Linked DNA regions of Homo sapiens: region 1 is linked to region 2. The links come from fine-mapping of genetic effects on gene expression. A gene starts in region 2. The other region holds a variant in brackets. All regions are shown on one strand. Distances are between the middles of the regions. Region 1 overlaps CHIT1 (chitinase 1). Region 2 holds the start of MYBPH (myosin binding protein H).

Region 1 (5,369 bases), 46 kb before region 2:
TGGGGGACATTTTTTAAATGATTTATGGAGAAAATGGAATGGAGTATTTGAAACTTGGTGTTTTCTAGAAAATCCAGAATATAGGGCTCCCAAAGCTCTAAACAGTCTTTCTAAAACTTTTTTGGATCATGAACCCTTTTGGGAATCTGATGAAAGTGATTACTCATCTTCCAAAATAATGCTTATATACAGACTGTTTATTGAAATGCAGCAGGAGTTTTTAGCCTGGTGTCCTCGGACTAAATTAATAAAAATAAAATAGGATCAATCTGTAAAGAACTTGAGACCCCCTCAAGAAGTTCAGGGACTTCCCACTAAGGAAGGAAGATGTGGAGAGGTGGTTCTTGGGGCAGCTTGGGGATTTTGACGAACTCTGGACTAGTAACAGCAACAAAAACACAAAGCGCTCTACGGGTGTGAGTTAAAAGAAAGATGACCAGGTTAACCTGCCAGGAAACTAAAACAGTGGGCTCCCCAGGTCTTTACTAACCTTAGTAAAGGAATTAGAGAAATTCTAATTAGAGAAAAATCTTACTTAAAGAAAAACCTTACAAGAGGAATTAGAGAAACTAATTCCTTTTCTTTTCAAACCTCCATTCTGAGGGTGTCAACTAGTTCTGGTTTGGGGTGGGACAATTCAAGGGCTTGGAGGAAGCCTCTGGAGGGAATTTTGGGAAAGGCTCCTAGGGTGTCCATGTGCCCCTGGTGATGTCGATGTTCGGGGGTAGAAAGTGCTCTGGATGGTCCCCTTTCCTCAACCCGGACCATAACTCACCAGCAAATATCCCTGCAGCCTCTGAAGCAGCCCTCCCAGTGCCCCTCCTAGCCCAGACACAGAGACGCACTGTCCTGAGTGTTTTCTTGCCTGCTTCTGAGTAAGAGTGGCCTCCTGTCTGGTCCAAGGCCGGCCCTTACTCCCCTTCATCACCTCACAGGTTCACAGATATGGTAGCCACGGCCAACAACCGTCAGACCTTTGTCAACTCGGCCATCAGGTTTCTGCGCAAATACAGCTTTGACGGCCTTGACCTTGACTGGGAGTACCCAGGAAGCCAGGGGAGCCCTGCCGTAGACAAGGAGCGCTTCACAACCCTGGTACAGGTATGGCTGGGCGGGGCGGGGATCACCAGTCTGTGCAGGGACCCAGAGCTGGAGCCCCCACAGCACATGTGGGGGCTGCTCTGCCCCCAGAGCCAGCTGCTTCACGTATCTGCATGGCACAGATCAGCCCTGTGGCCAGCTCTCAGACTTCTACAAGTGAACATCTACCTGGGGCTCACAGGGGCTGCCTGCCTGGTGCGCGCCCCTGTGTTGACTCTGAGCTCCACTCCCACAGGACTTGGCCAATGCCTTCCAGCAGGAAGCCCAGACCTCAGGGAAGGAACGCCTTCTTCTGAGTGCAGCGGTTCCAGCTGGGCAGACCTATGTGGATGCTGGATACGAGGTGGACAAAATCGCCCAGTGAGTCTCAGGCAGATGGCTTGGAGCTGTGCTCTCTGAGGGAAGAGAGGCCAAGGGCAGACTGAGCTTTCCCATGGGTAGAGCAGGTGTTCATCTACAAGGCATTTGGAAAGTCCCATCCTTACACCAGAACAAAAGCAGAAAATTCCCTGCTTTTGTACTCAGGGTAAAACTAAGACACATCCAGAAAGGCTTTGCTCAGTGTCCACTGCTGCCCTGTTCCAGATCCTTCATTTTGGATCTCTGTCCTCTTCCTCGGGAACTCATTCTTAAGGTGAAAATGCCTCTGAGTGGGTAGTGAAGCCATTGTCTTCAAGAAAATGGGTTTTCTGGATCCTTGCTCCTCAAAGTACAGCATGTGGACTCGCAGCCCTCATTAAAACCAGGTGCTCATTAGAATTATGGACTCTCAGGCCCCACCCCAGGCCTTCTGAAGAACCTTCATTTTAGTGAGATTCCCAGGTGATCTGTGTGCACACTGAAGTGGGAGAAACCCTAAGCTAGAGTTCCCTCCAGAATAGCAATGTAGCAGGAGTTTTCTTGAGTGGAATAGGGAGGGCCTGGGGGTGCTGAGGGGACAGTGGGGTGAGGGTGACAAGTTTGAGTGAGAATGAGAATGGCCTTCATAAGGGGGCTGGCTGGGACTGCTGTCTGGGTCACCTTCTGCAGAGCCAGGTGAGCCTGCCACCTTTGCCTCTGACCCCAGTGGTTCCTCCCTAGGCCATGCACTGAGGGGGTAGGAGTGAGAAAGAAGGGCTACCCCACCCCCAATCCCTTGTTTCTCACCTCCTCTTCCATGCCTCCTGCAGGAACCTGGATTTTGTCAACCTTATGGCCTACGACTTCCATGGCTCTTGGGAGAAGGTCACGGGACATAACAGCCCCCTCTACAAGAGGCAAGAAGAGAGTGGTGCAGCAGCCAGCCTCAACGTGGTACGTGTGGCAGGAGGGCTGAGGCAGGACTCCCCTGTCCAGCAGGCCCTGTTTGGTGGCTTCTTTT[G/C]AGCCCCGAGGCCCTCATGGGAAAAAAGACACAGGGCACTGAGAAACAAGAAGCTTTTTTGTTTCTTTGCTTGCTTGTTTTGTTCTATTTTCCTGGTCCGTGCCCCTGCTGAGGGGAAACCTCACTTCTGTGGAGCATCTTGGCTGATGGTAGAGGCAGCAAATCAGTTTGATGACAAACAAGTGACCAATGGGGAAGCCCACTTTGAGCTTGAGTCTCCAGCCAGCAGGCCTGCTGCTTCCCTCACACACCCCCACCCCATTTCCTTCAAGACAGTGGGCAGACTTGTGCTCCATGGTCACACTGGTTGACCTTCTGGAAGGTCCTTTCAGGGACAGGAGCTTTCCCAAGTTGATAACATCTCTGCAGATGTCACTCAGGGTGGAAGTACTCCCAGCACCTGCAAAGGGCAGGCTTGGTTTTTAGACTAGGGTAGGTTGGGGTTTCCTAACTTTTCCTCATTGAGCAATCAAGACACTTTTAATTTTTTTTAATTTTATATATTTATTCTTAAGAGACAGAATCTTGTTCTGTCACCAAGGAGGGTATGCAGTGGCATGATCATAGCTCACTGCAGCTTCATCCTCCCAGGCTTAAGCGATCCTCCTGCCCCAGCCTCCTGAGTAACTGGGATCACTATGACCAGCTAATTTTTTTTAAGTTTGTAGAGATGGAGTCTTGCTATATTGCCCAGGATGGTCTCAAACTCCTGCCCTCAATCAATCCTCCTGGCTCAGCCTCCCAAAGTGTTGGAATTATAGGCACAAGCCAACATGCCCAGCCTAGATCCTTTTTATAAGCCCTCTATATATCTTAAAATATAGAGAGGGTTTATAAAACCCTGCAGAGAGGGCTTATAATAACTACATTATTTTTCTTTCTTAAAACAAGCAAAACCAAACAACAAAGAAAAAGCCCTAAATTAAAATGCTTTTTACTTTTGGAGAGCCCACATCTCTGTATGTCAGCTGGAGTGGGACATCTTTGATTTTCTGGCTCTTTCATGAATAAAGAGCACCTCTTTGAGCCAGTGAGCCAGGCACCCACATTTCACACTGAGCCTGGCCTCTCCATCCCTGTCTGGAAGACTGTGTGAGTTTTGGAGGAAGCTGTATCCCTGTGCTGGTGGGGAGACACAGAAAGAAATTTAGCTGAGAGGTGAGTGGGGTGGGAGTCCCTCCAGCACCCTGCTTTCCACATTGTGTACCTTGAATCCACCGAGGAATGGAGGCCATCTTATTCCTACAAAGAGGCCTTCTACTCACCACACAGTGTGCCCGGGGACAGGTTCTAACCAGATGGGTGACTTTTCCCAACTTGCACAAAAGTGCTATAACAGATCAGGAGAAGCCCCGACTTCTGCCTTCAGAAAGCACCCATCTGATCAAAGATAAGTTGTATAGATGGACAAAAAGAAATATATTTAAATAAATGTAGTGAAAGCTGTTCTTTACCTAAGTGCTAAGTGGGCTCAGAGTAACTAGACCTGACAAAACTAGGGCAGCTTCTGGGGGAAAGTGAACCATACTCTTGGCTTAAGGAATGAGGCTTCATTATTCATTAATTTATCATACTTGTACCGGGTACCTTCTCCCGTCACAGGCCTGGGGGTGTTACACCAAGTAATATATAATCAGGGGAAGGCCTTATTCAAAGGTGGGTAAGGAAGCCTTTGTTCTATCTGAGCATCAGGTGTCATTCTAGACACTGAGGATACAGAGATAAATAAAGCAGACCCAATTCCCTGCTTTTGTACTCAGGGTAAAACTAAGACAACAATCATGATAACGATGATGACCACAGCGACCCTTTATTGCGTTGTGCTGACCTTTTACATGCATTATAACCTTTAATTCTCACAATGCCCTAAGAGATGGATATTTTCCTTATTTCCATGTTACAGACAGAACACCAAGGTTCAGTGAGGTTAAATAAGCTGCTGGGTAAGGCAGGGATCTGTGTCTGCCTTGTTCACTGATGTGTCTGAAGCACCATGGACAGCGCCTGGCACACAGTGGGCCATCAGTACACATTTGTTCAGTGAATGGTTGTCTGCGTCCGAAGCCCACGCTCTCTGGTTATCATGCCATGCAGCTTCTTCACTGGGGTCACGGGTCTAAGGCAGGCTCTAAAGAAGATGGGGTAGGGCTGGAATCCTAACAAAGGCCCGTAGAGCTCCAGCTGAGGAGCCCCTGCCCTCCTAGCTCTGCCTCTGGATCCCCCAGACTTAGATAATCAGAACCAGGCTGAGGGCTGAGAAAATTAACCCTGCCCTCTTCCACCAGGATGCTGCTGTGCAACAGTGGCTGCAGAAGGGGACCCCTGCCAGCAAGCTGATCCTTGGCATGCCTACCTACGGACGCTCCTTCACACTGGCCTCCTCATCAGACACCAGAGTGGGGGCCCCAGCCACAGGGTCTGGCACTCCAGGCCCCTTCACCAAGGAAGGAGGGATGCTGGCCTACTATGAAGTAGGAAAACCCATAACCACCCTGGGTATTGTGAGGGTCAGGGGGTGCCTGAGAGAACAGAGGTTTCCTTCTCCCACCGTTTCTGAGTAAGGATGCCAATTGCAGAGAATTCTGGCCATGTAAATTCCATCTCATCCATGCCATCTTGAATTTATCCTTAAGCCCAGGTGCCTCAAGCTGAGTCCAGAATTCTAGGTCACTGCAAAGAACCTCCTGATTCTCCAGGCTTCCTCAGACAGGAATTTTCCAATCTCTAGTCTCCTCCTGGTGAGGAAGGGAAGGTGCCTGCAAGAGCCTCCCTCCTCCTCCCCAGTGCTGCCTTCTGCTCCCACAGGTCTGCTCCTGGAAGGGGGCCACCAAACAGAGAATCCAGGATCAGAAGGTGCCCTACATCTTCCGGGACAACCAGTGGGTGGGCTTTGATGATGTGGAGAGCT
Region 2 (5,369 bases):
AGGAACGTAATCGTGTCCCCTATCCTACTTCCCCTTCCTAATTCCACAGCTGCTCAATAAAGTACAAGAGCTTAACAGTGTGTTGGCGCTTTGCTTTGGTCTATCTTTGAGCGCCCACTAGACCCACTGGACTCACCTCCCCCATCTCTTCTGGGTTCCTTCCTCTGAGCCTTGGGACCCCTGAGCTTGCAGAGATGAGGCCGCCATGTCCTCTGCCTAGCCGCAGAGAGCCCCAGTGGGAGGCCAGCGTCCTCAGATTCACCTGCCTTGGACTTAACCCAAGCATGGCTGATGGCCTTCCAAATATTAAAGTCATTGCCATCCAGATTTCTAAATTAAATTCCCTGTTGAAAGAAACGTTTTCTGTTTCCTGAAGGCTAGCAGGCCCTGGGAAAGAAGGCTTTTCATCCCAACACTCCCTCTCTTCTGATCCACAGGAAGGTGGTGGGAGCTCATCACAGGACCAGGTTAGAAAGCCCTGAACCCTGGACCCTCAGGGCCAGCAGGAAATGCAGATGTCATCTCATGCACCCTTCCTGCCTCTCGGGACTGGAGTCCCTGCAGAGTGCTTGAGAGATGGCCCTCCAGCCTCCCAGTGAGGGGCAGCCGATTACCTTGGAAGCAACCCATTCCGTGGCTGGGCTGAAATCTGTCAATAGTCCTAGTGCTGGGCTTAGCCCTTTGTTCTGTTCACCCCTCCCCTAACACTCATCCCTCCACCCATTCAGAGATCAAAGTACCTCTGCTCAAGCTGGCCTGAGATAGGAGGTCGGGAGGATGTGATGGGGTGACTCAGAAGAATAGACAGATTTTCAGCCTTTATGAGGTGGAGACGCTCTCATCAGGCTTCTGTTGAATTCCCAGGGCCCCAGGAATGCCTTTATCCAAAAAGGCTCCAGATACTCACCCCAGAACTAAAGAGAATTGATTTGTGGATTCTCTGATGTTTGGATTATCTGTGACTTAGGATAATCACAAATTGGCCTGATGGTTTGTGACGCCGGTTTGAAGTGGAGGGAAGGAGGAAATATCTGAAATCTGAACCAGCTGGAGCTGGGCAGATGCTACTGATCCCAAGGTCACAGCCCTGCTGAAGGCGAAGAAAACAAGGACTCGGCAAGGCGTGGAGTGGGGTGTGGGGAGGGGGTACCCGGCATTTCACCTCTGGCTGGTGGGGCCAAGTATTCCCTAATCCCTGCCACTGCCCACCCCACCACACAGGCATCTTTGAAACCCCAGGGCTGCAAGCCCTTGTGGGCAGCCAACTGCCCTCCCCTGGGGCCACCCTTCCCCCAGCCGGGGACAGGCTCTCCAGGGCTGACTCAGTGTCCTGTGGGGTTAGTCACATTCACTTATAGCTGCAGAGTCAGAGGCCAAGGATGGAGATCCAGTCTCCAGGACCCACTCCCTGCCTGGCAAGACGTGGAGTCACCTAGCAGAGGGCGAGGGCATCCAGGGAGGGCCAGATCCAGAGGCTCCCAGGCCCTGCACTGCCACTCCCCAGCAGAGACAGCAGGGTTGAGAGGCAGCCACACCCTGGTGTCCCCAGTCCTCAGGAAAGGGAAGAGCATGCATGCTGCTGAGGGCCCTGAATAAATCACTTTTACTTATTTTTAAATTGTGAGCACATCTTACGTGCTAAAGAGTGCATAAATGTATTTGTTTAATTTGAAGAATAACTATGTAGTAAGAACCTGTGTAACCACCACCCAGGTCAGGAAAGGAAACCTCATTAGCACCCCTGCAGCCCTCACGATCACAGATATCCCTGTTCCTCCACCTAGAGGCAATCGCCATCCTAACTTTTGTACTGGCCTCATCTTCCTTTCTGGCCTTACCGCCTACGGATGTACCTTGAAGAAGGGAGCCTGGTGTTGACTGCATTTGGATTTAATGTAGATGAGACAGATGAGACGCAACATTTCTGTGTGCCTTGCTCTTCTGCTCATCACTGGGTCTGTGAGTAGCTGAAGTTGCTCATTTGACCCCATATTTTGCTTTACAGTTGCATAAACACTCCACAGTTATTTATCCATCCCACTGTTGAGGGACAGCTGTTTTCCCCCACATTTCAACAATTACAAATAACATTGCCATGAACCTTCTTCTCCATGTCTCCTGGGGCATGTGTGGGTGTTATATGAGCGGCACGGCTGGGTCACGGAGTAGGCACCTCATCCATTTTACTAGGCACTAGTAAAACTCTCACATTTTCCAGAGTGACTGCTCCAATACCAGCAATAAAAGTTCTTAATGTTCTCCCTCCTTCCTGACACATGGCATTTTCTGGCTTTCCAGTGATTCCCAGTCTTAACATTTTATCGAACAAATGAATCAATGACTAGAAATCTGGCCATATCTGCCTCCTTTGGCACACTGAGAAAGCCCATGCCCACAGCCTGCTTGGAAGAGTCTAGAAGCTTCAGAGTGCTCTCCTCCACTAGGGCATCTTCCAGATCTGCCTACAACTGCAACCCATCCCGAAGGGCGAGGGGTTCTCTGTAACAGGTGGAAAACTGAGGCCCACAGCAGGCATCAGGGGAGACGAGCTCCTTACCAGCCGCCCAACTGAGACAGGAGCCAGGAGACTTAGTGCCCCTTCCTGGGGTTCCAATGCTGGAGGACCATCCTCTGAGCAGCTCCACCCTCAGCATCTCAATTCCCTCCCTCTCTAGGGCCCTCAGCCTCATACAGCACAGGCGAGAGTCCCTGGGAACTGTGGGAGCCCAGGGAATGTGGACCCCAGAGGCAAAGCTGGGAGTGCTCACAAGGACGATTGTCCCAAACTGTCAGGGCCCCAGCACCCAGTCTGAGAAGCTCTGGGAACAAGTGGCCCCATAGACGCCAGACACACAGAGCCTGAGCTGGGCTCATTCTCCAGATAGAAGTTCTTCCTCCTATTGCCCTGACACCTGGCACGCGGCCTGCTCGATGTCCCATCTCACCCATCTGCGCCCTCCCCCAGCTGGGCACCAGCACCCTGGCTGTTGAAGGCCAGTCGGGGAGATGGATGAGGAAGTGACTCCTCAAGGGGCCCTTGTGGTTCCTCCCCCAGAGCTATTCCTGGCCTGGGCGCCTCTCCACCCTCCAGTCCTCCTGCTTGACCTGACCCCACAGCTGGGAATCGTTTGCTGGGGGTGGGGCAGCCCCTGACTATATAAGCCTGGACCTAGGTGTCCCAGGCACCCTAGAGGCCCAGGCCCCCCAACGGCTGACCCCTGCACACTCCACCCTGGCCCCCCAGCCAGTCCAGCAATGATGGAAAAAAACACCTCCGAGGGCCCTGCCTGCAGTCCAGAGGAGACCGCATCTGAATCTGCCAAGGTGCCCACAGCAGAGCCTCCCGGAGAAGTGGCAGTATCAGAGTCCACCAGAGAAGAGCAGGTGCCCAAGCCGCAGGCCCCTGCCCCACAGGCCCCTACAGCCTCCACAGCCACTAAGCCTGCACCCCCAAGTGAAGGTGACTGAAGGTGGGGCAGGGGGAGGAGGGAGGCAGGCATGTCAGGGGTGGAGGGGAGCTCTTGGCCATGAACCTCTTCATCTCCCCAGATGTCCCCAGTGCCCCACTGCTGCTGACCCTGGATGATGTGAGCAGCAGCTCTGTGACTGTGAGCTGGGAGCCCCCAGAGAGGCTGGGGAGGCTGGGCCTCCAGGGCTATGTGCTGGAGCTCTGCAGAGAGGGAGGTGAGTGCTGGGCTAAGTCTTGCATACACCCAGGGGAGGTTGTCATGGAGGGCTGCAGGGACAAGTGCACAGGCCCTGTGGTTGGTCAGTCTGGGAGAGATACAGAAGGAGGGGATGCGAGCAGTAGGCTCCTCAACCCACCCACCTGCCCTTTCTTGCTCCACCAGCAGGAGAGCAAGAAAGGGTAGGTGGGTGGGTTGAGGGGCTCCCTTGTCCTCAGCTCCAAGGAGCTTCTGAGTAAGGGAAGGGTAAGGGGACACTGGGTTCTCCTTTGGTGAGAAGGGAAGGAAGTGCTAAGTCTCAGAGGACCCCGAACTGTAGGAAGTGGAAAGGGAGGAGCTGGAGAGGGGAATGTTAGCGTAAGAGACAGTGAGGAGAAAGCGGGAATGGGGTGGGGGTGTGGGGGCCACATCCCTGCTGCCACTGTCCCCCTCCATGGCCCAAGTCCAGCCTGGCCTCTGCCTCTGCCCCTACCTTGCTGTGTGACTTTGCAAATGTGTCCAACCCTCTCTGGGCTTCAACAACCTCATCTCTAGCCACAATTTCAGGGCTCTAACATCAGGTGTCTTTGATGCCATTTGACAAGAAGTCAGGGAAGGCAAACAAGGGGAAAATGAGGCCCAGAGAGGGAGGCTGATTTCCCCAGATCACCAGCAGGAAAAGAAGCCCCATGGAGAGGGGCGCCTGTGGCCACATTGCAAAGACCTCACACTCTCTCCATCCCCTCAGCCTCGGAGTGGGTGCCTGTGAGTGCCCGGCCCATGATGGTGACCCAGCAGACTGTGCGGAACCTGGCTCTGGGAGACAAGTTCCTCCTGCGCGTGTCTGCAGTGAGTTCTGCAGGGGCTGGCCCGCCGGCCATGCTGGACCAGCCCATCCACATCCGAGAGAACATTGGTAAAGCCCATCCTGGCCTTCAGCTACCCAGCCCTTCCCAAACACCTTATCTAATGGAGAAACTGAGGCCAGCAGGTAGAGGGAACCAGGCAGTCATTTCCCCCGTCCCACGCTCACATGCACAAGCCACACGCTATCACCATCTTGCCTTAAGAAAGTTCCAGGTTCCTCAGCAGTAAGGGGCCTCTGGAGGTCTAAGAAGCCATTTCCCTGAGTGGTCCAGCCCCCACGCCTTGAGAAAGGGGCTCAGAAACAAAAGGTCAAGTTCCCTGGGTCACCTGCTCAATGCTAAGAGTCCATCTGTTCTATCTCCCATCTAATCTCAATCTCTCCAGTGGCCATAAATGCTCATTTTCTGCCCATTTCCTGTGGCCTGGGTTCCAGATTCTCTCAAAGGTCTTGAAACAGAGAGAAGGCGCTGCTTGCCCCTTGTTCCACCATGGCCCTAGTGGAAAGAAAAAGAAGGTCTGCAAAAGGCCCATGAAGACTTCTCCATTGCAGAGGGCATACCTCACTGGGGCCCCGCAGGCCAGCTGCCATCCCCATTGCTAATATTTCTATTTGCAAGGTGCATTAGCCTCAATCCTCCCCTCGCTCCCCTCCCGGAGCTGATCGGGTTTCAGTCTGTTAATGACAGTGAGTCATTTGGTCTGATCTGAGGTCTCTGGGGACAGCACAGTCCCCCAGGGTGAGGAGAGACACAGGCAGGCAGGTGGCCTGAAGCCTTCTCCACCTTCCTTCTTGCTCCTCCACTAGGGGATGGATGATTTCTGGTAGCTCTAGACAAG

Evidence for each region. PIP is the estimated chance that this variant, and not a neighbour inherited with it, causes the effect.
Region 1: its variant is the best candidate, but not a certain one, in a credible set for the expression of MYBPH in whole blood (TOPMed, PIP 0.66).

Annotation. Positions count from the first base shown.
Region 1 is chr1:203,219,227-203,224,595 of GRCh38, reverse strand. It overlaps CHIT1 (chitinase 1), which reads left to right. Exons shown (of 11, transcript NM_003465.3): 5 at 936-1,101; 6 at 1,337-1,461; 7 at 2,271-2,394; 8 at 4,747-4,932; 9 at 5,267-5,369. Among named protein-coding and RNA genes, the nearest start is that of CHIT1, 7.8 kb to the left of the region's middle. The variant G/C (reference allele first, on the strand shown) is at 2,462.
Region 2 is chr1:203,173,642-203,179,010 of GRCh38, reverse strand. MYBPH (myosin binding protein H) reads left to right here and starts at 3,185. Exons shown (of 11, transcript NM_004997.3): 1 at 3,185-3,460; 2 at 3,550-3,684; 3 at 4,414-4,581. The coding sequence starts at 3,256. It overlaps CHI3L1 (chitinase 3 like 1), which reads left to right. Exons shown (of 10, transcript NM_001276.4): 10 at 1-80. RefSeq lists enhancers at 404-1,603, 4,521-5,050.